Homo sapiens: one gene and its partners. The protein of the gene in region 3 interacts with the protein of the main gene of each other region in a pairwise test. Each region holds a gene or a part of one and is shown on either strand. Other genes may lie near its edges.

The links.
Region 1: the proteins of GIMAP1 (region 3) and HSD17B11 interact in binary tests that used the Homo sapiens proteins (3 or more experiments, as listed by UniProt).
Region 2: the proteins of GIMAP1 (region 3) and BLCAP interact in binary tests that used the Homo sapiens proteins (3 or more experiments, as listed by UniProt).
Region 4: the proteins of GIMAP1 (region 3) and TMEM45B interact in binary tests that used the Homo sapiens proteins (3 or more experiments, as listed by UniProt).

What each region holds. Positions count from the first base shown.
Region 1 is NC_000004.12:87,353,167-87,360,198, reverse strand, and holds part of HSD17B11 (estradiol 17-beta-dehydrogenase 11 precursor), read left to right. Parts: intron 1-2,782; coding exon 2,783-2,920; intron 2,921-7,032. UniProt on the Homo sapiens protein: Can convert androstan-3-alpha,17-beta-diol (3-alpha-diol) to androsterone in vitro, suggesting that it may participate in androgen metabolism during steroidogenesis.
Region 2 is NC_000020.11:37,517,869-37,524,900, forward strand, and holds part of BLCAP (apoptosis inducing factor BLCAP), read right to left. Parts: intron 6,586-7,032; exon of another isoform or gene 6,509-6,585; intron 5,823-6,508; exon of another isoform or gene 5,029-5,822; coding exon of another isoform or gene 4,799-5,028; intron 4,571-4,798; coding exon of another isoform or gene 4,490-4,570; intron 3,584-4,489; exon of another isoform or gene 3,536-3,583; coding exon of another isoform or gene 3,464-3,535; exon of another isoform or gene 3,382-3,463; intron 2,722-3,381; exon of another isoform or gene 2,570-2,721; intron 2,436-2,569; exon of another isoform or gene 2,368-2,435; intron 1,483-2,367; 5' UTR 1,307-1,482; coding exon 1,043-1,306; 3' UTR 1-1,042. Other genes in the region: NNAT (neuronatin), read left to right, coding at 3,464-3,535, 4,490-4,565, 4,799-5,028. UniProt on the Homo sapiens protein: Acts as a tumor suppressor; induces growth arrest at G(1)/S checkpoint and apoptosis via RB1-dependent and p53/TP53- and NF-kappa-B-independent mechanisms. Modulates expression of genes involved in the regulation of proliferation, cell cycle and apoptosis.
Region 3 is NC_000007.14:150,719,613-150,724,816, reverse strand, and holds the end of GIMAP1 (GTPase IMAP family member 1), read right to left. Parts: intron 4,770-5,204; coding exon 3,892-4,769; 3' UTR 533-3,891; downstream 1-532. Other genes in the region: GIMAP1-GIMAP5 protein, read right to left, coding at 4,411-4,769. UniProt on the Homo sapiens protein: May regulate lymphocyte survival. Required for normal levels of mature T-lymphocytes and mature B-cells.
Region 4 is NC_000011.10:129,853,822-129,860,509, reverse strand, and holds the end of TMEM45B (transmembrane protein 45B), read right to left. Parts: intron 5,901-6,688; coding exon 5,694-5,900; intron 4,803-5,693; coding exon 4,618-4,802; intron 3,198-4,617; coding exon 3,052-3,197; intron 1,937-3,051; coding exon 1,825-1,936; 3' UTR 507-1,824; downstream 1-506.

The DNA of each region.
Region 1 (7,032 bases), on a different chromosome or scaffold from region 3:
AAAAGAAAAGATTGCTAGATTCAATTATATGAGGTGAAATATCTGTACATTGAAAAAAACTCAGATGAAAATTTCTGTCCTTATAATTACTGCTAGGCAAGAATTCCGTCTTGTTTTACTTTGCTTTTATATGAATTATTCCTAAAGTAAATCATTTTTATATGCCTACATCTACTGGCATTTTTATATTATGATTTTTCCATGAATGCCCTTTAGCCATTTATCTATTAGAGTATTGTCTTATTCCTTTATAAAAGTTGCCATATATTAACCTTATCCTTGTCTTATATGTTGCAAATGCTTTACCAGTTTGTCACTTGCCTCTTAATTTGCTTGGAGTTAATAAAGTTTAGAATATATCATATATAAACCTGGTTTACTACCCACACGTAAAACCTGATTCTGCCACTTTGTTTTGTATCTTCAGGCAAGTTTGATAACCCATCTTTACCTCAGTTTCCTCTTTGGTAAATGAGGATCTTAATATATTTTATAGGGGTATTATGAAGATTAAACAAAATAATTATTTAGAATAGGCCAGGTACTGTGGCTCACACTTATAATCCCAGCGCCGTGAGAGACTGAGGCAAAAGTATGACTTAACCCCAGGAGTTTGAAACCAGCCTATGCAACGTAGCGAGACCCACATCTCTACAATAAAGTAAAATAATTATTCAAGTGTTGTGGCACATGCCTGTAGTCCCAGCTACTTGGGAGGCTGAGGTGATAGGATTGCTTGAGCACAGAAGTTCCTAGGTTGAAGTGAGCTATGATTGCATCACTGCACTCCAGCCTAAGTGACAGATAAAGACTCCCCAAAAAACTCCAAAATGCATCAGAATAACTGAGGGCAATGTCTAGCACTTAGTAATCTATTTTAGATCTGATTTTTATTTATGTTGTTTTTCAGTATACAGAAGCTTTTAATCTCATATAATTTAATCTAACAATCTTTCTTTTAAGCCTTCTGTATTAGTCCCCTCTCACCCTGCTATAAATAACTGCCCAAGACTGGCCAATTTATAAAGGAAAGAGGTTCAATTGACTCACAGTTCTGCGTGGCTGGGGAGGCCTCAGGAAACTTACAATTACAGAGGAAGGGGAAGCAGGCATGTCTTAAATGGCAGCAGGAGAGAGACAGCGAGAGAGAGTAAGAGCAAGAGACGAACTGCCAAACACCTAAAAAACCATCAGATCTTGTGAGAACTCCCCCACTATCACGAGAACAGCATGGGGAAAACTGCCCCCACGATCCAGTCACCTCCCACCAGTGCCCTCCCTCAACATGTGGGGATTACAATTCGGATTACAATTGTTGATGAGATTTGGGTGGGGACACAGCCAAACCATATCAGCTTCAATAAGTGCCTAAACTTTTTTTAAAAAGGTAAGAAATTTTTTTTAAAATTTTTTAAAAAATTTCCACAGCTTTCTGTCTTCCAAAGCATAGATTAACTGGCCAGAATGTATAGCTACTTTGTGTAATTGCTAATTCATACAGATTTAACAGAATAAAAGATTATCTGATAATTATTGCCACTGAATTGCACACTTAAAAATGGTTAAAATGACATGTTTTACATGATATATATTATACCACAACTTTTAAGTTAATTATATATCAAAAACCATTTAATTGTGTACATTAAGTGAATGCTTTGTGTGACATATGAATTTATATCTCAATAAAGCCCTTTTTAAATTAAAAAAACCTGAGAAAGTAATGTCCATTTAGAATAAGTAATTTCACTACTACTTCCAAATGAAAGAGCTGTTAAAATAAACGCTTTGCATTGTGATTCATTCATTTGACAAATATTCATTGAGCACCTAAGAGCCAAGCACTGTGCTGGGCCCTGGAGATTCACTGGTGACCAAAACAGTCATGGAGCTTATAGGAAAGGTGTGGGAAACAGATGTTTTAAAAAATTTAATCTCAGCTGGGCGTGGTGGCTCACGCCTGTAATGCCAGCACTTTGGGAGGCCGAGGTGGGCAGATCACGAGGTCAGGAAATCGAGACCATCCTGGCTAACATGGTGAAAACCCGTCTCTACTAAAAATACAAAAAATTAGCCGAGCATGGTGGCGGGCGCCTGTAGTCCCAGCTACTGCGGAGGCTGAGGCAGGAGAATGGCGGGAACCCGGGAGGCGGAGCTTGCAGTGAGCCGAGATCGCACCACCGCACTCCAGCCTGGGTGACAGAGCAAGACTCTGTCTCAAAAAAAAAAAAAAAAAAAAAAAAAAAAAATTTCTCTAATGAATGTTCAGTTACAAATCTGAGATAGATACTATCATAGAAAACTGAAAATTACTATATAATGAGAAAATAATTTAGACTGGGGGTTAGGAAAGGCCTCTTTGAGGAAGTGAAGCTGTGACTTAAAGGAAGAATAGGATTTATCCAGGAAAAGTTTTCAGCAAATTCTATGGACATCTTAAAGTAAATAAGGAACAGCTTATAGTGACACTGAATTTTGTGGAACAACAACAAAAACAAATACTCTACTAATTTTCTTTAAAAGGCTTTTTAAGGAAATGTTCTTATTCCGTAAGTGATGCTAAGATGCAGTAAATCTTCTATGTCAGGGCTTCTTGGACCTTAATGTGCCTACAGATTTACCTGAGAATCTTGTAAGATGTGGGCTCTGATGCAGTAGCTCTGGGCTGGGGCCTGAGACTCAGGGAATGCCCACATTGCTCTGCAGAGGACCATGCTGAACTGAGGAAAACAGGCAGACATTTCAGAATTCTTGAATTATTTTGTAAACTCTCTATTTTCAGTTCAAGCAAGTTTGCTGCTGTTGGATTTCATAAAACTTTGACAGATGAACTGGCTGCCTTACAAATAACTGGAGTCAAAACAACATGTCTGTGTCCTAATTTCGTAAACACTGGCTTCATCAAAAATCCAAGTACAAGGTAAGTTGAGAAATTGAGACAAAAGGATTGGTGGTTGCTATGAATACCAGCCATTCTGTGGGTTTTCCTAAATGTTTTAATCCTGAAAACACCTGATAGTTAAAGCTCTTAGTTCATTTTGATTTCAGTTTCTGCAGATTGTGGGAAAACAGGTGGAAAGCCAAAAAGAGAGAAAGCAAGGGAGCGTGACTAAAAAAGTAAATATGAATGACATTGGTAAACTTGCTAACTCTTCCTTTTTTCTTCTCCTGAGTAATGATTCACAGGCTTAAATATGCATACATGTCACCAGGTGTGCTTGGGAACTATGTTGGGGCTTCACCCTCAGATATGTTGACTTACTGGGTTTGGTTGGGGTAGGGTAGTGGCAGGGAAGGGAGCCTGGAACTCTACATTTAAAAAAGGTGATTATCATAGGTGATTCTGATAGAGATAACCCAAGACCACATGTGAAAAACACTTCCCTTGGAGGTAATCTAGAGATTAGCCTCCGAAAGGAGTACCAGATCATACTCTTTACTTGGTTAAAAAATAAAATTATAAAGGATTAATTTGAAGATAATTTTTAATGTTTTCTCTCTTTAGAAATAGCTTTAATGTCTTTGTAAACATGATGCATACTTATTTGTTTAAATTCCAATGTTAATGAAAAATACAAATCGAAAAGTTTCTTTTTTAATTTCCTTAAAACCCTCTATTGAGTGGAAACCACTCTCAAAATTTTGATAAACATCCTTCTAGACTTCTCTGAATTTTCTATAACTGGCGTATGTTACACATGGGGTCCTGGAAGCAGCAAGTATACTGCATACTTCCCTCAGCATTATGTTACAGACATCTAATAAAGTACAGAGCATTATAATAAATTGTATTGATTATTGGGAGCAATAGCATCTCCTAGTGATGATTTTAGGGTTGTTTTTAGTGTTCTGGATTTTTAACAGCAAATCAGCAATAAGCATCCTCGGGCACACATATTTTCACTTTTGGATAATTATCTCCCTCAGGTAGATTCATAAAGGGGGATTACTGGGCCAAAGGGTATATAACTTGTAAAAATTCCTACATATTGCCAAACTCCTCTCCAGAAATGCTCCACTGATTTGCACTCCTACCCACAGTGCAGGGAGAGCAACTTACTCTCTACTTCTTCATCAGTCTGCCTTCTGTGACTCTTTTAATCACCGCCAATCCAGTACGCGAAGAATCATCTTTGTTTTTACCCTGATGACTAGCTACATTCATGTTCGCATATGATTTTTGGACATTGCACTTCCTTTTATGAATTGCCTATTTTCATGGCATCAGCTCACTTTTTGCTATTGAGCTCTAGAGTTGTTTTTGTTTGTTTCTTTGTTTGTTTTTTGTTTTTTTTGAGACAGGGTTTCACTCTGTTGCCCAGGCTGGAGTGCAGTGGCGCAATCTCGGCTCACTGCAACCTCCACCTCCCAGGTTCAAGCGACTCTTGTGCCTCAGCCTCCCGAGTATCTGAGATTACAGGCACGCACGACCACGCCCAACTAATTTCCGTATTTTTAATAGAGATGGGGTTTCGCCACGTTGGCCAGGCTGTTCTCAAACTCCAGGCCTCAAGTGATCCGCCCACCTTGGCCTCCCAAAGTGCTGGGATTACAGGCATGAGCCACCATGCCCAGCTGAGCTCTAGAGATTTTTAATTAATACATAAGAAACAATTCTTCATACATTTGAGAAACCCCTTTATATATCACATCTGTTGCATATGTTTTTTTTTTCCCCAGTTGTTTTTTGTTTGCTTTTAAGCCTATTTTCATTTAGTTTTACATTAAAATTTTCTTAGGGATTTTTTTCTCATGGACTTTAGGTTCTGTGAGGTGTTTAGAAAGGTCTTTCTCATTCCAAGTTTTTGAAAATATTTACCCATATTTTTTCTAGCATATATTTTATGGTTGCATTTTTCATATTTAAATCATTGCCCCACCCAAATTTATTTTGATTTAAGAAGTAAGGTCACAGTATAGTTTTTTCCAAATAGTTAATGAGTTTTCTGCACTATTTATTAAATAATACATCATTTTCCTCACTGATATTAAATTCATATTATAAGTTCACATGCTTACTTGGATAGACTTTTGGATTCTCAATTTTATTGTAATGATGAGATTCAATTTTGCTTGGTTTTGTTTTGTTTTTCAGACAGGGTCTCATTTAGGCTGAAGTGCAGTGGTGTGATCATGGCTCACTGTAACCTTGAACTGGGCTCAAGCAACCCTCCACCTCAGCCTCCTGAGTAGGACTACAGTGTGTGTGCCATCATGCCCAGCTAATTTTTTTTTTTTTTTTTTTTTTTGAGAGCCAGGATTTTGCTGTTTGCCCAGGCTGGTCTCAAATTGGCCTTGAGCAATTCTCCCACCTCCACCTCACCTCCCAAAGTGCCAAGATTATAAGCATGAGTCATTGCATCCAGCCAAGATTCAATTTTTAAGTTTTATTCTGCCCCCTCAAACTTCCCCATATTTCCCCCAATTCAGCTGCCTTTGTTGAAAATGTATTTAAAATTAATGAAAAATATTCAGTGTGGCCACTTGAAGGGTTAATTTGAAGGTAAAATTGAAGATTCTAATTTTTTTCCTTTTTTTATTTTTTTTATTTTTTTTGAGACAAGGATTCGCTCTGTCACCCAGGCTGGATGCAGTGGCACAATCACAGCTCGCTGCAGCCTTGACCTCCTGGGCTCAACCTATTCTCCCACATCAGCCTCCCCAGTCCCTGGGACCATACAGGCATGTGTCCCCACACCTGGCTAATTTCTAAATTTTTTGTAGAGACAGGGTCTCCCTATGTTGCACAGGCTGGGCTCAAGGGCTCCTTGAACTCAATTGAACTCCTGGGCTCAAGTCATTCTCCCAACTTCAGCCTCTCAAAGTGCTGGGATTACAGGCATGAGTCACCATGCCTGGCCTAACAGTTCTATTTTATTATTATTATTATTTTTTTAGTGGAGACGGAGTTTCATCATATTGGTCAGGCTGGTCTCGAACTCTTGACAGCTGATCCACGGCCGCCAGGTTCTATTTTAAACACACTTAATTTAAGTCATCCCACAGGGAAGCAGAACAGAAAGCCAACGTTAGACAGAAATTTGGGAGCTGTCCAAAGATCTCAAGCCCCCAAGAATCTATCAAACAGTCTTTAAAATCTATTTTTAATACACAATTTTTGTTAGAAAACAAAAGTAAGAGTGTATATTTTAGAGGTCAATGTTTAAATTTATCAGTATTAAACAAGAGAACCCTAATTGGAGTCTGAAGAGAGAAGAGAAGGGACAGATATGTTTTTCAGGTTGGGAAATGGATCTGAGGAATGAAAGTAGTGAGGATAAGCTTCACTAAAACTGAAAGCAGATGTTGAAGATAAAACTTGCCAGTTTCCTCAATTTCTTTTTCAGTATGTGGATACTAAAATAACATATTTGAGTCAAGTTTTAAAGTCATACTGTCTTTCAGTAGTTAAAAACAGACATCCTATTTTCAAAAGTTATAATTGAATTTTTTAACCTTGCCCCCCCTACAAGGCCGCACAGAGCTGACCTTAACGTGGGCTCCAGCGCCCTCTCCTGACAAAACTTACTAGTGCCATTAATTCCTACATATTGCCAAACTCCTCTCCAGAAATGCTGCACTGATTTGCACTCTGGAGGAAAAGTGTGAAAAGAGGCTAAGATGATTCTAGGCTGAATATAAACCTGGCTAAGGAAGGGCCTAAAGATTGGTCCTGACATATGAACCTCTTTGAGGCTAAGCTGGTACTAAAGTAGACCCCAAAGATGAAGTTGGTTTTAATATAGAAACTTATTACTTCTAATTAGAAGAGAGAACATGTTCCTCGTTAAATACCTGTTTACATTTCAGACACCAAATAAAATGTCATTTTCTTAAACCTCACAACAATACTTTTGGGGAGATGTTATTAGTCCCTCTTCAGTAGATGAGAGAGATCTGAGGTTTAGAGAAATTAAATTACAAGTTATATACCCTTTGGCCCAGTAATCCCCCTTTATGAATCTACCTGAGGGAGATAATTATCCAAAAGTGAAAATATGTGTGCCCGAGGATGCTTATTGCTGATTTGCT
Region 2 (7,032 bases), on a different chromosome or scaffold from region 3:
TAAATAAAAACTGTAGCGGCACCTACCATATATAGCTAGCTATTGCTAAACCTCAAAATCAGACCACGTTCGATAAAGCTTCTTTAAAAGGAATATACACATGTATTTGTACACACACACACACAGGGCACACCAAAAAATATCCAAACATCTATCAAGGGGATCAAGGCCGTTACGAAACACACAGGTACTCTCCCACTCACTCAGCTGGGGACTGCTAGAACTACGTGAACACACCATACTTCAATGCTGCAGAGCATGCACGGGAGACACAATGAGGCCCCCTCCTTGGGACAGTTGAGAAAGGCAGGAGGAAGGGCAAAGGAAGTGAGGCTGGGCGGGAAAGCTTGAGCCCAGACACCCAGGTGAAAGAGCAACATCTATCTGTTGCTTCCTTTCTTAAAAATGAAGTGGAGAAAATACTGAAGATTTGTGGACAACTAACAGTCAAGACATGTTTCTGTCTAGCCTGCTGAACAAGGAAAGAAGGATGAAAAAGCGAGGCTCTCGGGCGTCAGCAATCTCTTCAAATTCGAGATAAGTGCAAAAATGAGCCCTGTCTTGGACAGGTACTCCCCAAAAAAGGAAAAGGGTAGAAGAGAAATAAAGGGAAACCAGAAGAGGGACTGAGGAGTCAGTAACATTCTGGGAAGGAAGGAGACCCTGACAAGGAGGGGTCACAGAGGTGACAATGAGACTGGCATTTTATCTGCCCCAGGTCACATTGGGGCAGCTGACCAGGATGGACCCAGACTCCTCACAGTAATGAGGCGAGAGGGGTGGTCATGCGGCCAGCCAGGACCTAGATGGGGACAGAACACACACAACCACAAGACCACCCACGACTATAGGACTTTACAATAAAAGCACCGGTCAGTGCCATTATTCACATTGTAAGGATAAAACATCACAGGCCAAAAAGGCGCCGTCAGGAATGTGACACCCGCGAGGCTGCGGGATTTGAAACTCCAATGCTTTATGACCTATGTCAATGCCTCCCCTCCCGTCTTCTGCTTCCTTGGAAAGCTAACAGGGCAGGCCGTTAGGTGCCCACAACGCCGGGATCATGCGCCGATTCTGGAAGCGGGGAATCGGAGCAGTGGTACAGGAAACAGTTTCCCCAGCAGCTATAGCAGATAAGGAACAGGGCTGCCAGGAAAACCAAGGCACAAATTGTGCAAGGCTTCCGTTCCAGGAGGAAGCTGAGCAGGTAGAAGCCCATGAACATGGAGTGGCTGAACCACAGGGCGGGGTTGAGGGGCTTGGGGATGAGGAGGACGGGCAGCAGCCACTGGAGGCAATACATGATCTCTGCCGGGCAGGGCCTTCACCAAGGCTGCCGGGCACCGCTGCAGGAACCGACCTAATGGGAGCCAGCGGGCGCAGGCGGCTGCCCTCCGCTTTCTTCAACCCTCACTCTCCAGGAGCTGAGCCGCTGTGCTCTCTGGCTGTCAGCCCGGGATCACCAAGGCAGCAGGGATCCTGAAGAGAAAAGTCAACACAACAGACAAACAGACAAAGAACAGACAGACAGACAAAAAAAAAAAAAAAAAAAGAAAAAAAAAAAAAAAACAGGAACAGAATGTATACTTATTTGGGAAAATGGATCATGGTTAACAACAGCAAATGTGAAATGCCCTTTCCTCCCTGCCCACCCGTGAAAGTTCTACTCCTCTCCAAGTCACTAATTCGGGAAGCTTCCTGGGATGTCTCCCCGGGGCTTCTCCTGGGGGATCGGGGAGAGGGCTCTTTGGCACGGTTTCACACAGTGGGCTGGCTTTGCCTGGGCCCTGCCCAGCAGAGATCATGTATCGCCTCCTGGGGCTGCAGCCCGTCCTCAAGGGGCCCAGACCTCACAATACCGCCCAGTGGTTGCCAAAGGACGACCAAGGGCTCCCTGCTGTGCCCCCACGTGGTAAGGACAGGGTTCTGTATCTAGCATCTCTCACAGCCATAGGTGCTCAGGCACTAAGTGCAGAGTTAAAGCTGTTAGCGGGGCACTGCCGGCCACCAGACCACAGGCAAAGGATCCTGAGGCAGCTACAGCCTCGAAATATTTTAAGATGGCAGCCTAGGCTAAGCTTGCCTTTTTCAAACAGCCCAGCGTCACTTTGCCAGAATCTGCCAACTTCTCCGAAAGTCAATGTAGAAAAAAAGTCACTATGCTACTTTGTCCAAACTGAACTCGTTTGGATCATTACACCTCCATCTGCTGCTGGCACTGTATAGAACCTGACCTCTGGGAGCTTTTAATGAAAATTAATTTTCTATCCACATAGGGGCAAATGCCAGTTGGTCCCTGGGCCAGGCAGCTTGCTGGAAAGAGGTGCTTTCGGCTGGCTACCGGTGCGCGGGGACCACACTCACAAACCGCATTCCGGTCTTCCCGCCCGAAAATCCGCGCTGTGCGAGGGACCCACAAGACTGGCGGTCTAAAAGGGACCCGCCTCACTTGGAAACGGGGCTGCGGTAGCCACAACCCTCCGGTAGCGGTAGCGTAACCCCGTTCGGTGATCCAGCCGCACAGCGCAACGGGTACAAAGAACCCCACTGGCTAAGGCCGACCTACCAGGGCTTGGGGGAGGGGAGCGGAAGACTGAGGTCGAAACGACCTGTCCAGCAGAAAACTATCCCCAAGCATATTCCAACCACTTCTCCGTAGAGCTCATTCCTTCCGTGCATACGAAGGGCGCCAATCCTTCCTGTATCCCTCCTACAGATACCGGGTGACTACTGCTTTTGCGCCCAAAGCGCAGTGCTCTGGCTCAGCTCCCTACAGTAGCGACCTCCACCGCAGATTCTCATCTCCTCGCTACCGTAAGAGAGATGTAAAGAATCAGACGGGTTACGCGCTCAGGCACCCTCATGAAGCAGAGGACCTGGGCTTAAAACTCATTCAGTATCAGGAAAAGAGCGCCGAGCACGGGCCTATTATGCCAAAGCTTCTGAAAGGGGCACCACGTTTTTTGCTCTATGGGGCAGATGACCCCTCCCTAATTTCGGTTTTCCATCCATCCCCAAGGTAGGCTTTGGAGTGGCACCGGAGACTGAGCTCAAATTTGCAGGCCAGGGACTGGGGAGAAGGGCGCCACACTAAGAGACCTGCACCCCCATTCTCGCCCTGTACTCTACCCAGAGTCGTGGTACCCCTCCATTTTAAAGCAAAATCCAAAAGCAAGCACGGCGGAATCTTCTGGAAGGGGGCTAAGATGGAACTCAGGAGGCGGGGGTCGGTATGGAAAGAGCAGATGGATTATTTTTTTCCTCTCCTGGCGAATGAGGAGCGCCCCCAGCCACCCCTCCTCATAAACACCCCCCAAGGCGCGCATGCGCACTTAGGTGGCGGGCGGGTACTTAAGGCGCGGCCACCGCGGCTGCGGCAGTGCGCCCAACAGCGGACTCCGAGACCAGCGGATCTCGGCAAACCCTCTTTCTCGACCACCCACCTACCATTCTTGGAACCATGGCGGCAGTGGCGGCGGCCTCGGCTGAACTGCTCATCATCGGCTGGTACATCTTCCGCGTGCTGCTGCAGGTAAGTCTGACGGGGTTTCGGGTGGGAGAGGGTTCCCAACTCGCGCCCCTAGAACCCGCAAGACTGCGTCGCGATTGCCGCTTCCCGGACCCGTCCTATTCCGATTGCCGCGATCCTTGCCTGCCCAAGTGCCGCTGCCGGCACCGCGCGCCCCCTGCCCATTCCCTGCGCCGTCCTCCTCGCGCTGACCCTCCCTAGTGCGCCCGCGCCTGCCAGGGAACAAAGACTCGGGGCGCGGCGGGCGACCGCTGCGGACGATCACCCAGGCATTTAGCGACCTACGCGGTAAGAAAAACCCGCTACACCCGGACTCGACCCCAGGAGGGAGGCGGGGCACTACTGTGTTGAAAGACTTTACAGCTCGCAGAGTGAAAATTTTCCACCTTAAAAAATTGCGCATTGCGGAGAAATTTTATTTAAAAAAACATATAGCGCTTGCGGGGGTGGAACAAAAAATAAGTTAGAAAAAGGCACTTCTCAGAAAAAATAAAAATTACTTCGCAAAAAAAAAAAACCCTACAACGAATTAGAGAAAAAGTAGTTCACAGGAAAACAGAAAAACGCGCATTGCAGGAAAAATAAATCGGAGAAAAGCACTTGGCAGAAAAAAATGCATTAGATTAAAAACGCACTGCAGAAAAAAATTAGACAAGGGAGCTAACGGAAAAAAATGGATCGGGCAAAAACGCTTTAAAGAAAAAAATTAGAGGAAAAAGCCCCTCGAGAGAAAAATAGAAGGGGAAAAAAAGCACTTCCAAAAAAGGACAATTGCTTTACAAAAAAAAAAATAATAATAAAAAAAATAAAAAAGAGGCAAAAGCGCTTGGTGTAAAAAGAGATAAATCAGAAGAAAGCGCTTTGCCCATAAAATCATTTACCCTAAAAGCTCCCTTTGCAGGAAGAATTCCCTGCTAAAGGAATCCTTTGCCAAAGGAATCGCATATTTCCTTCAAGGTGTTCCTGGAATGCTGCATTTACTGGGTAGGATTCGCTTTTCGAAATCCTCCAGGGACACAGCCCATTGCGAGAAGTGAGGTATACCTAAGTTGTGGGTCCAATCAGCTTGCCGCCATGCAGCTCTCAGCACAGTTGGAAAAGCTCCAGCTGCCCTGACTCGTGGACAAGCTGCGCCCGCGCCCGCCTCTCCAGCCTACGCTGGATGGGCGGGCGGGGCAGGGGGTGGGGCGGGGGTGGGCACGGCAGCACCACAGACATGCTGTGGGTGCTCTCCACTAAGGGTGGGTCCTGGGTTTCTCGTCGCAGGTGTTCAGGTACTCCCTGCAGAAGCTGGCATACACGGTGTCGCGGACCGGGCGGCAGGTGTTGGGGGAGCGCAGGCAGCGAGCCCCCAACTGAGGCCCCAGCTCCCAGCCCTGGGCGGCCGTATCATCAGGTGCTCCTGTGCATCTCGGCCAGCACGGGAGCCAGTGCCGCGCAGGAATGTGGGGTCCCCTGTGTTCCCTCGCCAGAGGAGCACTTGGCAAGGTCAGTGAGGGGCCAGTAGACCCCCGGAGAAGCAGTACCGACAATGACGAAGATACCAGATCCCTTCCCAACCCCTTTGCACCGGTCCCACTAAGGGGCAGGGTCGAGAGAGGAGGGGGGATAGGGGGAGCAGACCCCTGAGATCTGGGCATAGGCACCGCATTCTGATCTGGACAAAGTCGGGACAGCACCATCCCAGCCCCGAAGCCAGGGCCATGCCAGCAGGCCCCACCATGGAAATCAAAACACCGCACCAGCCAGCAGAATGGACATTCTGACATCGCCAGCCGACGCCCTGAATCTTGGTGCAGCACCAACCGCGTGCCTGTGTGGCGGGACTGGAGGGCACAGTTGAGGAAGGAGGGTGGTTAAGAAATACAGTGGGGCCCTCTCGCTGTCCCTTGCCCAGGGCACTTGCATTCCAGCCTCGCTGCATTTGCTCTCTCGATTCCCCTTTCCTCCTCACTGCCTCCCAAGCCCACCCTACTCCAAAATAATGTGTCACTTGATTTGGAACTATTCAAGCAGTAAAAGTAAATGAATCCCACCTTTACTAAAACACTTTCTCTGAACCCCCCTTGCCCCTCACTGATCTTGCTTTTCCCTGGTCTCATGCAGTTGTGGTCAATATTGTGGTAATCGCTAATTGTACTGATTGTTTAAGTGTGCATTAGTTGTGTCTCCCCAGCTAGATTGTAAGCTCCTGGAGGACAGGGACCACCTCTACAAAAAATAAAAAAAGTACCTCCCCTGTCTCGCACAGTGTCCCAGGACCCTGCGGTGCAGTAGAGGCGCACCAAAACTTTGTCTCTTGTGATTTCTTTAGCGGCATCAACATACACTTCTAAGACTCAGCTGATGTGCCCACTGTGGAACAGGCACACTGCTTGGGGGAGGGAGGAAAAGGAGGGCCATCAAAATTGCAATAAGCTGGGCCCCTCACACACCCAACCCCATCTCAATGCTGTCCTGTGATAAAGGACCATCTCCCCCTCTCCCCAAAGAGAAAGGCTGACATCTTCACTTGTGGTCCTGGAATAAGGGACCACTTCCCCCTCCCCAAAGGGATAGGTGCTTTACTTGTGGTCTTAGGATAAGGGGCCAAAGCAAGTATCACTTTGGGAAAGATGAGAGGAGGGGAAAAAGGTGGGAGTAGCCCTCCAAAGAGGTACTAGGGACCAAGGGGGTGATTTCAGAACACAAAGCCTTACTTCAGGTCTCCATCCAGGAGCCCCAAAGAAATGAGTAGTGGGCAGGGTGGACAGTGGCTTAGACAATGAGTATGGGATAAGAGGTGCAGCGTGGCGCCTTCTTCACCCAGCTTAATGCTGCAGGCCCCACATCCACCAGGACCACTACAAAGACAATCTGCCTGGCCTTGCTACTCTGCAGGGTCTCCTGGCCCCACCTCACCCCAGAAACCTCTCTCCCCAATACTGGGTTTCTGCTTTTCCCAGCACCAGCCTCCGTATTCTTAGGAATGCTTACCAGGTCCGTGGCCCTGGGCTCTCCCCTGCCATCACGTCAGGGTGGGCAGTGCTCGGCCTCGGACTTGTCTTCCTCTCCCACTCCCCAGTGAGTCAGGGCTCTTTCTACACGGGGTCAGCTGACTGTCTCACCAAATGGCCCTGCCGCCTGTTCAGCCTTGTCTCTGGCTTTATGTGTCCCTGTCACTACACACCTGTTGCTGGGTCAACACCAAGGGAGGGAGTTGGAGGGCCATAAATCTCTCTTCCTGCCACTTCTTCGAATCCCTTAGTCACAGCTGTCACAAATACTTCTGAAGCACAAAGTACCTTGCCCCCTTAAGCCTGATCATGTTTCCCTCCCCTAAGCAAGCCCTTAAGTTTCTTAGCCCAATCACCAGCACCTCTAAAGGCATCTAAAACTTCATTCGGTATCAGAGAATTATAGGGGTGGGGAGGTGCAGATCCCGGTTCTGGTCTTGACTTTGCCATCAATCAGCCTAGGGAACCTGGACATGTCACCTTGTACCCTTCATCTCCAGTTTC
Region 3 (5,204 bases):
AAGGCCTTCTCTGCCTACTGGAGACAAATTTTGATAATTCAGGCTTAAAACCTGGAGTTGATCCTTCTGCAGAACTGGAAGTCAGAAAGTCTTTCTTTCCTTTTTATTTCTTGAGATTGAGATGTCTATCCTTGGTGTGTGTGTGTGTGTGTGTGTGCGCGCGCGCACGTTTGCATGCATGCAAGTGTGTGTGTTTAATTTTTGAGCAGTGGTATGCAATTCTCTTCAGTGTTCATCATGATACATTCTGCTAGCATGTAGTAGAAAAGATAGTCTAGGAGTCTTCAGACGTATGAAGTCAAGAGGATATGCACAATATAACACCATTTTGAAAGTAAAAAAAGTCCAAGTGCCTAAACTTAGTGGTATGTAAAGAGAATTATGAGGAGGGAAAGAAAATATAAAAATATGAGAAGAATTAGGCAAAGAATGTGATTGAAAGTATAAAAATAAGACTCAAACCAATAATTATAACTAAACATCCAGTATATGGAGTGATAACTTCTTAAAGAAATAAAGAGGAGGGGACAAATTTGTAAGCATCTCAATAAAGTATTTTATTGGCAGAATAAGCAAGAACCGAATCTAGTTGCCTAAGAAGAGGCCAACATTGCCACTGTTAGATTAAGAATCATGGGGGAAAAATGAGTGTTGAGCCATAGTCTAGCTATAGCTTCCCCAAGAATTTACAGAAATTCTCTTCTGGGGTACTGAATCCATAGGTGAATCTCTGGAAGGAGCACTGGCATTTGCTAGGGCTACTGTGCGGGCTGGAACTGAATATTGATTGTGTAAGAATATGTAAGAATGTACTCTGCCTGAAATCTTTTGCTCTAAAAGTTCATCATGGCCAACACTAGCTTTCAGAAATAAGCCAGATACAAGTCTTTTTGTGTAGAACAAAAGCTGATCCAGGTACCAGGGCATAGAAATATGAACAGAAACATTATCAGCACAGGACCCATACATTTTTATCTTCCAAGAGATAAAAGGAGAGGAGAGGAAGGGGGACAATTGAAATGGATATATATTTACACAATTTTTGAGGTATTGGACAGTATTTTTACTGTGTCTGGTTAAAATTAGCAAGCAAGTTTTTCCAACAGGAGGCAGTGCTGTTTTATGCTGTAATTTAAGTATAAAATTGATTTGTGCTATCAAATCACTCAAATTACATAAGTGAGGTCACAAGGCCTAACCTTGAGCTATGGGGGAAAAAGCAACCTTTAAGCCACAGCCTAAAAAAAGACTTTACCGAAGGGAATGGTGAATGCCAACTGTTCTGTAGCAGGAGAAAAGGATAAAATAAGCTGAAAGGGGTGGAAATACAGTAATTTGGGGGACCCTGTGCTTGAAGGGAAGTAAATTTCCTTAGGGCAGGAGAATATCATTAATACAATGACATGCTTGCGCGAAAGAATTTTCTGTTATCTATGGTAGAAAATTTAGAAAATGGTCAAAAGTCTGGTAGCTAGAAATCTAATATTAAAAAGGTACAGGAAAGTCAACTTTACAATTCATTTTCCAAACATTTGTTGATCCCACTTTCTATGCCAGGCACTGGGTTGTATAACGGGGATACAAAGATGAAAAAAAAAAGATCATAATCAAAGTATCTGAAAAAGAAAACCACTAAAGAAATGTTATTGAATGTAAAGGAAAACTGTAACTTCTTTAATAATACATTATTCAAATTCAAAGATGATAGCACATTTTGAGATTCAGATTGGTAATGTATCTTTGATTACACTTTGCAAATGTATTTGACAATTAACCATATACTACTACTTTTTATTACTGAGGTAGGAGGCAGGACTAGACTCTGGAGGTGGGGATTGGGCTCCAGACCACACTGAAGACAAGCTGAAAGGGAAGAGGTGAAAGAGTCTCTCCATAAAACACACTCACCAGTGCCACGTCAGGTTACCATTGCTAAGGCAACAGCTGGAAGTTTTGGCTCCTTTCCATAGCAACAATCCCACGACCTGGAAGTTACGACCTTTTTTCTAGAAATTTTGGCATAATCCACCCCTAAATTTGCATATAGTTGAAAGTGGGTATAAATGTGATTGCAGTACTGCTTCCGAGCTGCTACTCTGGGCACACTGCCTATTGGGAGCCCTGCTCCACAAAGCAGCTTTGTTGCTGCTGTACATTAAACCACTTTGATAAAAGTTGTTGTCTAACACCAGCAGCAGCACTGGCTCGTGCGCAAGTGACCGTGGACGACCACGCTGTGCCCTCCCTGCTGTCCCCTCTGGTCATCAAAGGATCCTTCCCTGGCTCGAGGCCCCTGCCTGGGCCCAGAAAGGCTGCTGAGGAAGCGAAAGGCAGGAATTAAACATGGGTTTTTCTTGAGCCACGCTTCAAAAAGTCCAACTCCCTGCAGCGGTCACCAAGGCCCTCAGGACCCCTCACCATAGCCTGCCCGAAGCCCGCAACCCACCTGGAACCTCCTGCAGTCCTTAGCCTGAGCTGGCAATTGTGCGCATGCTTGCAGACCCCTTCTTCCCAACGTGTGCTGGGGAAGACCCTAGGGCGCCTGCGCACACTCCCTCCTCCTCTTCCTCTTGAATAGAGCTAATGTGAATACCTGCTTCCCATGTCTCCATGACCTCACTAGAGGCTGGCTGATTTAAAGACAATGAGTTCCCTTAAAGGGTTCTCATTATGCTCAGAAATAGAAATAAGGAAATCCTATTGTTTGATTCGCACAACCAGTCAGCGGCAAATTTTCTAATCACGTGGCATTCGAGAACCTTCCTGGACAGGCCCATCCCGAAAAAACCGGATGCTTTCGCCTCACAGCATAGGATGCTCAGGTGTCTGCAGTCTCAGCCTATGCACCTGGTGCTCTGCCTCTTCTCCATAACCAGAGAGGAGCTCGAGATACAGACTGTGTGTGTGTGTGTGTGTGTGTGTGTGTGTGATAAAAATATGAATAACCATATAGAAGATATTATATGTTATTTTCCCAATATCCTACTCTTTTTCTTTTTCTTTTCTTTTCTTTTTTTTTTTTTGAGACAGATTCTTGCTTTGTCACCCAGCCTGGAGTGCAGTGGCACGATCTCGGCTCACTGCATCAAGTGATTCTCCCGCCTCAGCCTCCTGAATGGCTGGGATTACAGGCGAGTGCTATCACGCCTGGCTAATTTTTGTATTTTTAGTAGAGATGGGGTTTCGCCATGTTGGTCAGGCTGGTCTCGAACTCCTGACCTCAGGTGATCCACCTGCCTCGACCTCCCAAAGTGTTGGGATTACAGGCGTGAGCCACCTCGCCCGGCCCTTACTTCATTTTGGAATGCCATGAACCATAATATGTTCTAGAAAAGTGGAAACTGTTATTTTCCACTTTGTAACAGTACAGTTACATTCATCTTTTTGGTAGTAAATCATTGTACTATAAACTGATGTCTCAGAAGTAACATTCACGTGTGTAACCCCCACATTTCTTTTATTGATGCTAAAAGTCTACAAGGATCACAAAGGAACCTATCTACCCATGTATAAGAACTAGAAAATTATCAAGGAGGGGCAGTCTAAATTTTTTAAAAAGCTCGAAAATAATGGCACTTGTTTTCCCTGTGCCATGCGTTTGTCCCCACTACAAGCTACTTGACATTAGACTACCAAAACTACCAAAGGAAGTTATTGTTAGACGAATTTATTTTAAAACTCTGCATACACATCATTTAAAATGAGTTAAAAACTTAAAAAGTGAACTCTGAGCTTTGGCAAAGTTGCAAAGGTGATGCAGCAAAGTTTTCTGTGTCATTAAAACTATGCCTGAAACTACAGGATTCCTTCCGTTGGAATGAAGTTTTCCCTTCAGCTCCAAGAATTCAGCCTCCCTTAACCAAGTTGCCTTCAGTTTTAGGACCTGCGCTGTCAGTCAGGCCCGACCTCCGCAACGGCCTCCGACCACCGCCTGTGGAGCAGCACCCAGAACAGGAGCGCGCCCCCCAGCAGCAGGGCCAGGCCCAGCCTCCAGCTCCTGGGGGACTTCAGCCACTTCCACAGCCGGGCCGACAGCCAGGCGCCCCATGGCCTCCTCTGCACCCTGGCTGCCACGCGCTCCGCCACCCGCCGGAGCCGCTCCTCAGGGCCTGCCCAGCGCAGCACCTGCGCCAGCTCATACACCTCGTTGGAGTAATGGGCGCCCTTGTGCTCCAGCACCAAGCCCTCGACCATCCCCAGCAGCTGCTCCACCTGGGCTTCCTGCTCCCGGCCGGTGGCCCGGTTATCAAAGGCACAGACCCGGCCCCCGCACTCGGCCACCAGCTCGCGCAAGGCCCGGTTCTCTGTGTTGCTCACGTAATCGTGCAGGGAGCCCCCGGCCAGGTCCTCCTTCCTGGTGAAGACGATGACCATCCATTTTAGGACGTCCTCCCCGAACATGTCCCTCACCTGCCTCACCGCCTGCTGGTCCTGGGCGGTGAACCGACCCAACTGGGTCACCAGGAGCAGCGCGTGGGGTCCGGGGGCCGAGAGCAGGTAGCAGTGACCTCTCTCCTCACAGCCAGGATCTGTCTTGGACACTTGGGAGCTGAAAATGTCCGGAGTGTCCACGACTTCCACGTGGCACTTGTCCCACCTGCGGCTGCCCGTGGTGCAGGCCCTGGTCACAGACGTGGCCCCCAGCCTGGAGAAGAACCGTCTCTGGCCCAGGATGCTGTTCCCAGTGGCGCTCTTCCCGGCCCCTGTTCTCCCAACAAGGATGAGCCTCCGCGTGGACTCCTGCCGGGACTGAGCGTTCTCTTCTAAACCTGTGAGACCAAGTGTTATAATCTTACTTAAGTTTAACCAACTTCCCCTTGGGAACTGGAATCTTCTTGCCTTTAGCATAAGTGGTTAAGAATAGAGATTTGAACGCCTGGGCGTTCATTTCCACCTTTTCCTTTTGTATTTGGGTTGTCTGCCTGCACCAGTAGATGCTCCAACTACAGTTGATTATCATAGAAATGCTTCTTTATCAGTCCAGCCCAATAGTTCATCTGACATTTCTGGTCATCCACACACATGCAGACATATTTATTTCATATTTGAAAATTTCGATGGACTCTGAAATATTCTCCCAGAGACCATCCCCAGAGACAGGCAGTGGGGGCAATACTGCCTGGTAGTGAAGAGCTGTGTGGAGTCCCAGATACCCTGGTTTGAATCACAGCCCCACCACGTGCTGGTTGTGTAACCTTGGGGAA
Region 4 (6,688 bases), on a different chromosome or scaffold from region 3:
TACTGGGTTCAAGTGATTCTCCTGCCTCAGCCTCCCAAGTAGCTGGGACTACAGGTGCTCACCACCACACCAAGCTAATTTTTATATTTTTAGTAGAGACAGGGTTTCACCATGTTGGCCAGGATGGTCTCGATCTCTTGACCTCATGATCCACCCGCCTCGGCCTCCAAAAGTGCTGGGATTACAGGCGTGAGCCACCGCGCCCTGCTAGGCCAGCCAGCTTTTCTGAAAGACCTCATGCTCTTACACATTACAAGCGGTTGTGAGAATCAAATGAGATAGGGTGCATCTCAGAATCTGAAAAATACTATGCACACGGAAAGTATTATTTGGTCTCTAAGGCCCATCAACTTGGTCCTAACTCACTTTTATCAGTTTGTAGAACTTAATCTTTTTAAGTTCTCCGTATTTTTTTATGCTTTCATTTTTTAATGTGCTACCCTCTCTACCTGGGATGTGCTTTTTCTACAGGGCAAGCTCTGCATTTCCCCTCCTCTCCTTTTTCTCATCGTGGTTTGTACTTGCCTCTCAGCACCCATCACACTGGATGTAACTACAGGCATGTCTCTCCTGTTTGACTGTAAACTCCTTGCTGGACACATATCTCAGGAGTCCTTACAGCCATTTCAGTGCTGTTGCAAAGTGGATATTTAATAAATATTTGTTGAAGGAAGTCTGTTTGCTTGTTTTTGAGACAGAGTCTTGCTCTGTCACCTAGGCTGGAGTACAGTGGCATGATCTGGGCTCACTGCAAGCTCCCCTACCGGGTTCATGCCATTCTCTTGCCTCAGCCTCCCGAGTAGCTGGAACTACAGGCGCCCGCCACCACACCCGGCTAATTTTTTGTATTTTCAGTAGAGACGGGGTTTCACCATGTTAGCCAGGATGGTCTTGATCTCCTGACCCCGTGATCTGCCTGCCTCGGCCTCCCAAAGTGCTAGGATTATAGGCGCGGTGAAGGAAGTTTTTTTAAAAAAAGAACAGATCCAGAAGCAAGATTAGGGTATCAAGATTTTACATTACTAATTCTGAATTCGTTATCCTTTGCTTTCAGCCATATTAAAACTGAAAGCCTTCCATACCTGACGTTTTTCTATCTCATTATACAGCTTTCCTGTCAGATCTTCTTTTAGGGTGACTTTGAAGAATCAGAACATCAGGGCTCCAACTCTCAGTAGAGCCAGTAACCAGCTTCCTGATTTAAAAAAAAATCACCTTTGGCCTAATTTTGTCACTTATAAACAGTGGTATTGCAGTACCCTGGTATGATTAGTTATGATATGTTTAACAATAATTTTAAAATACCAAAGCTTGTGAATTATTTTACTTTCAAAAAATATGTAAGTTAGAATTGTAATTCTAAAGGCACTGTCGTTTGCTTACACATTCTAACATATTTCTAATAAGAAAGTACCTGCTTTCTTAAGAGAAAAAGGGATAAGTTACCAAAAGCAGCACGTTCTCCTGGGCTCATACCCCGGATTCATCCATGAGGCCACTTCCATTGTAAAGCTTTTAGCATCTCTTGATTTCTCTTGACACTGAGGCACAAAGGCCTGCTACTTATAGGCATTACTTCATTTTTCCTTATGAAGGGTACTATACCAACACAGACTTTATAGTATGTTTAAAAATCCCAACTGCAAGATACACAGGATGCTGTAGGCCTGATTTCCTGTTGTAGAACCTCCAGCCCTGTGTTGAATGAGGAGGTGCAAATATATAGACCCTTAAGATCAGACCACAGCAGGCATTCAGGTGGAGGGGATGAACTCCATTCATTCCAGCTGTGCAGTGGGACATCTGCGCCCTCCGCATCTCGGCTCATTCCTCATCTGAGCCACTCAAGAGGGCGGTCTGGTAAGTGTCATCTGAATTCAGCTTCTGAATTCCAATGATTTCTCCCCTTCCGTGTCTCTTCATCCGAGTCAAAAGGCTTTAATAGAGAAAGAGTAAGAGCCAATTAGCCAGAGATTCCCTTAATCCATTACCAAGGATGTGAAGGCATCTACTGATTCTTAAACTATTTTCTTTATATTTCTATCAAATACTGTGATTACATGTCTATAAACTAGACTTCTTAGGAAATATTCATCAGTAGATAAAGGGGCGATGGTGGAAACTACTGAATGTCATAATTGAGGCCAAGGTCTTGCCTATCTTGGTTTACTGTTTCAGTGGCTGGGCAGGAGAACTAAAAGAAACTGACTTGAGCTCCCTTCTCTTTGGTCCGTGTGGAACTCTTTCTGGATGAAATAATGGCAAAAATCACCGTTACTTTTGCACCAACCTAATATTCTGCTTGGGATCTAGAGAAATGACCTAGAAGAAAAGGTAGAGGCAGCCGAACAGCAAATAGAACTGGTAATACCATTTGCTAAAATTCACCCTTGCACTGAGAGGCTCTGCCATTTATTAGTGGGGTGACCTTGGTCAAGTTACTCAGCTTTTTGAAGCCTTGTTTTCTCCACCTGTAAAAAATAACAGTGCATACTTCATAAAGCAGTGAAGATTAAATGGGATAATAGAGTGTAGCTGCTTTCCACTGGGCCTGGGGCGCAGCAAGTGCATAGGAGTCCATAGCTGTTATCTGTATACCTCTAAGGAGCCTTCAGTGAGGGGTGGAGTGCAGTTTGTCTTAACATTCTGCTCTGGTTTATTTTTTGACTGTCACATCATTTCTGGGAAGCAGGGAGGGCAGGTCTGGAAATAAGATGATGGGTCCAGAATGAACCCTTTACGTGGGGACTGCCATCCAGTACTGATTCCCATTTCAGTATTCCCCACCACACCATAGGCTTAAAATCTGTGAGACCTGCATTTGAAACCTGGGTCCCTCAGGTTACTATGACTTTGAAAAGCCCTCAGGTCATTAAACTTTGAAAAGCCTCATTCCCCTTGTTTGCAAATAAGGGTAGTGATACCTTCCCTGCATGAGAGTACCTTGCACAGAATTTGGCCTGTAGTCGGCACTCATCAGATGGTGCAAGTTAATCACATCAGTCCTGCTTAGAGTTAGGAGGAAAAGCTTCACTGAAGTCTCAGACATACCAGTAAACAAGAGAATAGTTGACGGCCACAATGCTGAGGGCAGCCAGGTAGTGCCAGCAGAAGCACATGGTGATGAACATGAGGTTGGCATCATCCTTCTGGTCCCATTCGGGTGTTCCAAAAGGTGGGAACAGCACAAACCCAATCTAGGGGATTACAGAGAGAAGTTGGTCTTGTGGTTGGTCGTCCTGAGAAGCAATCTAGCCGTTCTCCTGTGGCCACCGAAGTGGCCCATGTGTGACCACCGCCTCATAGTTCCCACACTTCGTTAGCATAGAAAGGCCTTTTCACATAGAAAAATGGCTCTGGCCAGGTATGGTGGCTTACGTCTGTAATACCAGCACTTCGGGAGGCTGAGGCAGGCGGTTTACAAGGTTAGGAGTTCAAGACCAGCCTGACCAACATAGTGAAACCCTGTTTCTACTAAAAATACAAAAAATGAGCTGGGCATGGTGGTGGGCACCTATAATCCTAGCTAACTGGGAGGCTGAGGCAGGAGAATTGCTTGAACCTGGGAGGCGGAGGTTGCAGTGAGCCGAGATCATGACACTGCACACCAGCCCGGGCCACAGTGCGAGACTGTCTTAAAAAAAAAAAAAAAGCCGGGCGCGGTGGCTCATGCCTGTAATCCTAGCACTTTGGGAGGCTGAGGTGGGTGGATAATGAGGTCAGGAGATTGAAACCATCCTGGCTAACACGGTGAAACCCCATCTCTACTAAAAATACAAAAAATTAGCCAGGCGTGGTGGCGGGCGCCTGTAGTCCCAGCTACTTGGGAGGTTGAGGCAGGAGAATGGCGTGAACCTGGGAGGTGGAGCTTGCAGTGAGCCAAGATTGCGCCACTGCACTCCAGCCTGGGCGACAAAGCGAGACTCTGTCTCAGAAAAAAAAAAAAAAAAAAAAGGCTTCAGCTTAATTTTGGTTGTATAGGCTTACTTAAAAACACAAGTCCAGGTGCAGTGGCTCACGCCTATAATCCCAGCTCTTTGGGAGGCTGAGGCAGGCGGATCACTCGAGTTCAGGAGTTCGAGACCAGCCTGGCCAACATGGTGAAACCCTGTCTCTAAAAATACAAAAAAATTAGCCAGGTGTGGTGGCGGGCACCTGTAACCTGAGCTACTCAGGAGGCTGAGGCATGAGAATCGCTTGAACCTGGGAGATGGAGGTTGCAGTCAGCCAAGATTGCGCCACTGCATTCTAGCCTGGGTGACAGGGTGAGTCTCTCTCAAAACAAACAACAAAACAGAACTTCAGGGCCCACGTTTCCAGTGGACAGTTTAGCAAGCAGAGCCTGTGAAAGGCATCAGCCCATCCTCTGGGGAGGGCAGCTGAACGTCACCGTGCATGCTTTAAATTTTGGATTGCTAATGCATCCTCTGGATGTTAATGGATAAAACTAGGAGTCAAAGGGCGGGCATGGGGGGAAAAGGGTCATCTAAACCCCTTTGCATGGCATGTTAATGCTGCATTTTCAGACCCCATATTCTCGTCAGGGATTTCTCTGGGATGCGCTCGGTGGGGGCTTCTCCATCCAGACCAGCGAGGGGCCTGGGTGTGGAAAATCACCTGCCAGAACCAGGTTCCCTGAAGAATGATGAGACTGGTTCGGAAAAGTTCCAGCACAATGTGGTCCCGGAAGATCACCTCTAGGGAGATACTAACACACCCTCCGAACAGAGCATACAGCAGGAGTGAGTGGATGTGCTGGTCCAGCGGAGGCCGGTTGTGGACGTGGTAGTAGAAGAGGAAACCTGCCACAAACCAGATGGCAGCTGTCAGGGCTACGCTTGGCTTTCACCATCACCGAAGTTTCCTCCTACACCTGTCTCAGCTAGGTTCTTCAGCATTTAGGCAGTTAGTACATAACATTACAGGCAGCAAACAGATGCGAGTAAGTGTATTTCATGAGTATGTTAGGAGTATAAAGCAGCAAGGGATTGTATCTTAAAATCTCTATGGAACCCATGGTGGGGTCAGTATAGGATGGGCCGGCTGAAGCATGTTGCTGATTTGTAACAGACTGTGTGTGTATACTTGAAATTCAGTTTTGCCCTCAACCTTTTTCGACTCTTGCTGAGGTACAGAAGTGAGGTTGTTAGATGACAAAATGTATTTTCATACCCCAGTCAGTGTGAGTCATACTGGCAGCGCTCCCCTGGCAGTGGAGTGGGTCTCCTGAGGCTTGTGATGGAGGCAAGACGGTACCTCCCTGGGCAAAAGGTAGAGTGTGGTTTCGCTTAACCAAAGGGGTGTATCCCCTGCATGGTGGCATTCAACCAGCTGGGGCATTGTGTGTACCCGCATGTGTATGTGCGCACATACGTCCACACCGAGGAATATGCACGTGTGTGAGCAGGGGCTGCTGGCGGCAGTGGGAAGGCGAGGAGGACTCCTGCAGTGTTAGCCGGGGCTTTGGTAGCTGCCTTCAAGCCTCAAAGCTTTCATGAGCTACTTTAGGGAATATGTCACCTGGCCCATCCAGAGTAGAGCACTAGGTCCTATTCAGGTTTTGGCAGTCCAGAGATGTGGATTTTCTGGGGGAGGTTATTATATTTGCAACATTTCTGATATTTTGTACTCTGATCCTTCATAAATATGACTTGTCAGGCTCTCCTTCCTCTCCATCCGTTCCACAAAATTACCTTCCATGAATACTGCCACAGCCATAACCAGTCTGTCCACCCCCAAGGGAACGTGGCTGACCAGATAGGTGAGCATGTCAACAATTCCTGAGACTGCAAAGAATAGGTACATGGTGCTGTGCTGCCAATTCATTAACTTTATCCAGTGGTTCTCATGGTAGAGGTGCAGGTGGGGCCCATCCGGAACAAACTGCTCTGCCAGGATCCCTGCAGGGAAATGAGGATGGATGTTTTAGAGGGAAGAGTAGCTCTAAGACAAATAGGAGCAAGGAATAACCCAAAGGCATGAGCGAAGCGGAGATGGGGTGAGGTGAGGGTGGCCCGCGGGTCAGCAGAGCTACTTTGCTGCCTCAGGTGCAGCTGCTTCAGTATAAAGTAGGGTGTGTGCTGAGTCACCTGTGTAGACATCTTGCCATTGTTGTTCCTTTTAGGGGTTTGGGGTTGAGGGTAGAAGAATCAATGAACACAACCACACACACATAGATCCCCAGGAGGTTTGTCCAGGAGCAGAGATGAGCAAGACATCATCACTTAAGTCGGAGTGTGGCTGATAGAATAATCTCTGGGCTTCCCTGCCAAGTGAGCAGTGAAAGAAATCCCAGACAGAAACAATTAGGCTGAAAGCAGAATCTGAGCAGAGACACACTGGTAATGAAGATACCTGTACGTGCCAAGGGAGGGAAGCGGCTCCCAGGTGCGTGTCTGCAGGGCTGATTTTGAGTGCGTGTCCTTCCTGGGCACAGAGCCAGCTCTGCAAGCCCTGCGCCCCTCCCAGCTGTGTGTTTTAAAACACCGGGTAAACAAGGCAGAGGCCCCAGGATGTGGGCCAGAAAATGACGAAACTGCGACACAGGATAGCTCTTAGTTCTTATCCCTTCTACTTTTATCAGCTAATTTGGAAGGCAAAAGATTTGTCTTTATGCCTGGTACCCAAAGTGTTCTTGGGGAAGCCTAGAAGAAATCCTCCATGATGACATTTTGGACTCCGTTTCCCA